Linked DNA regions of Homo sapiens: region 2 is linked to region 1. The links come from fine-mapping of genetic effects on gene expression. A gene starts in region 1. The other region holds a variant in brackets. All regions are shown on one strand. Distances are from middle to middle.

Region 1 (2,906 bases):
GGCACACAGAAAGAGATTAATAAATGTGCATGGAAGAAAGGAGGGAGGGGCTCCATGGTGGCGAGGTTCCCTTTAATGAAGGGAAGGAGGAGAGGGAGGAAAGGGAAAAAGAGCAAGTGCAGGGGATGGAATGCTGGAAGGGAGGAAGAAAGAAGAGAAAGAAGAGAGAGTGGAAAGAAAGTGTAAGTACGCCCTGAAGAAAGGGCCAGGGCACTCATCCCTTCCCGGCTTTCCCCCACTCCCCTCAAGCCCACCCCATGGCAGCATCCCAACGTTCCCTCTCTGTAGGGAGGGAAGCCCTGGTGGGTCCTCAGGGAGCTCCTGCGCGCCTGCTGTTCAGCCAAAGCCTAGCGCGGGACCTCCTTCAGGTAGCCGCACATTCTGCTCAGGGCTCTGGGACCCGCTGCCCTCTCCGCCTCTCCACTGAACTCCGCCTCTCCTTCTGTCACACGGCTCCGCCAGCCACTCTATCCTGCCGCCGCGACCACATCTCCAGCCTCGATTGTGCAGGCTCGAGCCCGTAGAAAGAGGGCTAGCAGCCACCTGCGCTTGGTCCACAAGAAGACGCGCTCCCAGGGCGCAGAGCTGGTGACCCCGCTCCCCATGCCAGGGACGAATAAACGAGAAAAGGGGCTGACCCGGTGTCACCCAGCGGCCGAGCAGCCGCCCCTTGGAAGCTCAGCACCAAAGGCAGGCGGCCAGGGTCCTGGCCCCTCTCTGGACCCCAGTATCCCCAGCTGTAAAATAGGGAATGCAGGAGGAGGACGACGTCTGTGGATCGTTTTAGGTCAGCTGCGGAGTCGGCCTGCGGGCTGGGAGCAGACCTCGCTCCCCACGCGAGGGCGCTGGCACTTCAGCCCAGCCTCCCTGGGGAGGTGCCCTGGACGAGACCCGCGAGGGTGCGGACACCTCATCCTCCCTGGAGCAGGTCTCCCGAGGCTTGAAGGGCCAGGGCACCCAACAGGTGCTGAGCGCGCCCCACCAGGTCACCCGGGAGCAGGGAACACCAAGGAACCCAGAGTCGGGCCTCTTTCGAGCCCTCGCTTCCTCTCGCCTGGCTTCTTCGGCGCGAAGGATGAATTGGGGTTGTTGAAAATTGATCAAACAACCCGATCTCTGTCAGCGCCTGGACACTTGCTGGGCCCCAGCTCGCAGCCTGGGAAGATAAGTGGCACTTCCTGTCTCGTAATCGGATTTGCGCGCACGAACCCTCGGAGACGCACAGGTGGGAAATGGGGAGGCTGGCGGGGAGGCCTCCTGGAGGAGGTGGCTCCGAGGGTAGACATGAGGAGCGCCCTGGGATGGGGCTGAGGGTGGATACAGAGGTGGGAGCTTGCGAAGGTCGTGAGCTAAGCATGGAAGGATGGAATGTGTTCGGGTCTCGAGATTCCCGGGTGATGAGCCCGGAGGGGCGAAGGCCTATAAATGTCTCACGACGGAAGACCAAGGTGTGGGATTGGCAAAGAGAGAGCAGAGCTTCCTCACTGGCAGGGGCTCCCCAGCCCCGCCCCATACCTGCGCGGCGGCCCCGCCTCCACCCATCCATTGGCTAGATCCGCCGCCCGTCAGACGAGCCCCCGGGGCCCGCCCCCAGCCCTGAGCTGCGCCTCTTAGCTCTGGGGCCACAGCGCCAGCGCCACTCTGCCAGGCTCCCGGCCATCGCCCGCCTGGTGCGCCGCCCGCCAGCTCTTTGCCCGCGCGGGGCCGCCCGCCGCGGGCTCAGGGCAGACCATGCGCCCGCCAAGTCCGCTGCCCGCCCGCTGGCTATGCGTGCTGGCAGGCGCCCTCGCCTGGGCCCTTGGGCCGGCGGTGAGTGTTCGCCCGGCCGCCCAGAGTCCCGGCAGCCTGGGGGTTGCGGAGGGCGGGGGAGGTGGGGGATGGCGGGAGCCGGGCCGTCTGTGCGCGTGTCTGTGTAAGAGGAATAGGGGACATCAAGCATCTCGACTCGCCTCCTCCCACCGCTCCAGACCGAACCTAGACGCGAGGGCTGGGATATTGGTCGTGCCCAGTCCCTCCCAGCGCAGCCCGGAGCAGGCACAGCATCAGTGGAGGGGCAGCGGGGAAGAGTGGGCCCCAGACTTGCCTTCCTTGTCGTGGTTGTGGGTGCGCAGCGGGGTGGGGCGGCCAGTGGGTGCAGAGTCAGGTACTGCGGCCGATTGAGATGGAAGGTTTGGTACACCGTAGGTGAGAGGGAGGATGTGAGGGGCCGTTCTTGTGTGCTGTGACCGTCTGGAGGTGCCTGTGGGCTGTCAGCATCAGAACCAGTGCTGGGGGCCCCAGGACTTGAGAAGGGGTTCTTGGGATCAGGTGAGTGACAGGCACATCCCTCCGTGTGCCCTCCCACTGAGCAAAGCAAAAAGGTACCAGACCCCAAGGTGGAAGCTGGTGGGCAGTGAGGGGCTAAGGGTGGTGGTTAACAGGAGGGGCCAGGCCTGTACATGGAGAGAGCTGAGCAGGGAGCCAATGCCAACAAGCAGTGGCCTCCCTCTTCCTCCCACTTCTGCTTCCTCTCAACGTGGGTATGTGTATGCCCTTGATACATGTGTACTCGTGTGCCCCATGTGTGGGTGTGATATGTGTTCCTGTGGATGGCTTACCTGGGCTGGGAGGCAGATGCTGATTGAGGCAGGAGATGCATGGATCATCTCACTCTAGAACAGGGGAGACCTCAGCACTCATTGAGTCTACTGAAGCCCATTTTACAGATGGGCAAAGCGAGGTCCAGAGACACAAGAGCCACATCTGTCTCCCACCAGTTAGACCTAGACAAAGGTTGATTTTCTCCCTACCCCAGACTTTGAGTAATCTAGAGTTGCTGCTTAGGCAGGGCCTTAAATGCCCACTCCAAGTTGGCTGGGGGAGGGTGAGGAATCTTGATTATCTAGTTCATTCTCTCCCATGGTCAC
Region 2 (2,906 bases), 27 kb after region 1:
CGCCGTTATCTTTAACCACTGTAATCTCCTCTTCTCCCCCTGCTTCTCCCTCTCCCTCCTCCCTCTTCCCTCCCACCCCACCCCTCAATCCAAGGATAGCCTAACCCCCACCCAACCCCACCTGGCAGTACTCAAATCACACTCCCCTCCGGCAACAGGAGATGTTGCTCACCCATCTGGGTGCTCACAGACCTGCCGCCGCCAGTGAGAAAAGCAGATGGGAAATGGGACACTTCATGGCCACAGCCCAGAGCACCTGTCCCACCTGTTGCTAACTTCCTATGTGGCCTTGGGGAACTTACAGCCTCAGTTTCCCCATCTGTGCAAGGAATTCCAAGATTCCTTCCAACTCTGCCATCTGCCACCTGCATAGCCAGGGCTCTGCTCACCATGCCACTTTTCCTACTCCCCCCGTCCCCGTGCCATCTGGAGTGGGTCCATACATATGCAGTCCTCCTCTTTTGTTCTGATCCTGACAGCAGGCTGGTTCTGGGCCTTCCTAGGGAAGAGAGGTAAAGGGATCATCTAAGGAATTCATTGCCAGTCACTAAGGGGGCCATCTCCAAGGGATTCTTAGGGACCCTCTCTGAGTGCCCCAAGCTTTGACAGAGAGCTTGAGATCAGCCCCAGCCCCCACTCATTCCTTGTGGTCAGTAACTCATTGCTTCATGCATGACCCCAGAGGCAGTGCATTATATCAGGGGTCAGCAGTACCTTCTCCCCAAAGAGTGAAATGATCATACTGGAATCTCAGGCATTTCAACAAGGGGGAGAGAAAACCTAGGGGACCCACTTTGGCCATTCCCAGAGCTTCTCAGAGGTTCTGTCCCAGGAGCTGTGAGGCCAAGTCAGACATGAGCATTGTGAGCCACAGGACCTGTGGAGGAACCTGCTGCCTCCTGTGCACATGTTACGGATAATTATGGAGACTGGCTTCCCAATTCATTACTGCGAAGCTTTTCTAAGACTAGGAAGAAGCACAGATAACTGTCCTGGTAAAGAGCTGAGTTATGGCCAGACGCGGATTATGGCTCACGCCTGTAATCCCAGCACTTCTGGAGGCTGAGTTGGGCGGATCATGAGGTCAGGAGTTCAAGACCAGCCTGACCAACATGGTGAAACCCAGTCTCTACTAAAAATACAAAAATAAAAAAAATTAGCTGAGTGTGGTGGTCAGCACCTGTAATCCCAGCTACTCAGAAGGCTGAGGCAGAATAATCGTTTGAACCAAGGAGGCAGAGGTTGCAATGAGCCGAGATCATGCCATTGCACTCCAGCCTAGGTGACAGAGCAAGACTCCATCTCAAAAAAAAAAAAAAAAAAAAGAGTTATTCTCCAAAAGCAAATGGGAGGAAGATGGGGAGGCAAGAACTCCTGTAACTGGAGGGACTGAAGCGAGACCTGAGGAAGGACTTTCCAACCAAAGGGAGTGGTGGGG[G/C]CAGGGGGAGGCTTCTCTCTGAGGATGTCGCAAACCAAGGGTACAGGAAGGAAGGGTGGGAACCAATGTTTTGGGTACAGGGGGAAGTGGAAGCCAGACAGTTTCCTGGTGGAGGGTGGCTTTAAGCCCTGGCTGACAGACATCTAGGCTTGATCTGAAATGGGGGACTTTCTGGGAGGGGACAGAAGGCCCAGAATACCTTCCAGTCATGCCAAGTGGGCCACCCAGAGCCCTGTGATTGCTCTACTCATGGGTCTCCCTAACTCCTTCATGGTCCTCGTCTGCCTAAGAAACCCATTCTTCCACTCGGTCCTCTGAACCCCAGGAGGAATGGCCACCCCTCCCCTCTTCTCTTCTTCTTCATTTCTACTTCCCCCTCTTCCACCCTCTTCTCAGTCCCAGTCTCCCTCCACACTTCCATCTGGGCCCCACTCCACAGTCCACAGCCCTCCACTCCCCCACATTGAGCAGACTCTTGAAACTCAAGCAAGAATTCTCCCTCATACCTTCCAGCTACCTTCAATACAAATTGGCATTAGATGAATGAGTGGGTGGGGTGGGAGTGTGGATGGGCAGGTTGGTGGATGGCTAAGTAGGCAGCAGGATAAATGGGTTAAGTAAGGAAGATTGGACAGATGATAGGCAGAGGGGCAGGTAGGTAGATATGTGGGTGGATGCACAAGTGGATTGATGGGTGGGTGCAGAGATGAATGGATGGGTAGATGACTGAGTGGGTTGGTAGAAGAATGGAGAGATAGGTGTGTGGGTGGATGGATTGATAGATGGGAAGATGATAGATGATGGATGGACACATGGATAAAAAATGGATAAATGAGTGAGTTGATAGTGAATGTCTAGTGGGTGAGTGGGTAAATAAATGGATACATGGATAGGTGGGTAGATGATTGAATGGGCAGATGGGTAGATATATAGATGGGAAGGTGAATAGATGAATTGATGGATGGATAATTAAAATCACCAGTTTATCCCGAAGTATCAGAGGATCTAAAATTAGGGAAAATGGGAAAACCAATGAGTACATTTTTAAGGGGATAATGCAAAACAACAAAGAGATTAAGTTGGCTGCACTGCAACTGTGTTTGTCCCCCCAGACACGAGTGTGGGCAGTCAAGGACCCTTGACAGCCCCAGTGAACCCCGTCTTTTCTCCTCCCCCTGCAGGTGGGCTGTAAGGCAGCCATGGTCTTTTTCCAATATTGTGTCATGGCTAACTTCTTCTGGCTGCTGGTGGAGGGCCTCTACCTGTACACCCTGCTTGCCGTCTCCTTCTTCTCTGAGCGGAAGTACTTCTGGGGGTACATACTCATCGGCTGGGGTATGGTACCAGGGAGGGCTTCCAGGCTGGGGACAGAGGGGGCAAGGCCTGGAGAACTCCCTAGGGGGAGGGTGCCAACCCAGCTTGCAGTCCTACGTCTTGCTTAGCTGCAGGTCCTGCCTGCAAGGATATC

Evidence for each region.
Region 2: its variant is fine-mapped to the expression of VIPR1 in whole blood (TOPMed, PIP above 0.99). The same link has a PIP of 0.9 or more in T cells.

The regions. Positions count from the first base shown.
Region 1 is chr3:42,501,005-42,503,910 of GRCh38, forward strand. It overlaps VIPR1 (vasoactive intestinal peptide receptor 1), which reads left to right and starts at 1,639. Exons shown (of 13, transcript NM_004624.4): 1 at 1,639-1,809. The coding sequence starts at 1,732. RefSeq lists an enhancer at 137-710 and silencers at 1,238-1,337, 1,398-1,897.
Region 2 is chr3:42,528,160-42,531,065 of GRCh38, forward strand. VIPR1 (vasoactive intestinal peptide receptor 1) reads left to right here. Exons shown (of 13, transcript NM_004624.4): 7 at 2,620-2,773. VIPR1-AS1 (VIPR1 antisense RNA 1) reads right to left here. Exons shown (of 3, transcript NR_046654.1): 3 at 2,737-2,799. Among named protein-coding and RNA genes, the nearest start is that of VIPR1-AS1, 3.0 kb to the right of the region's middle. The variant G/C (reference allele first, on the strand shown) is at 1,439.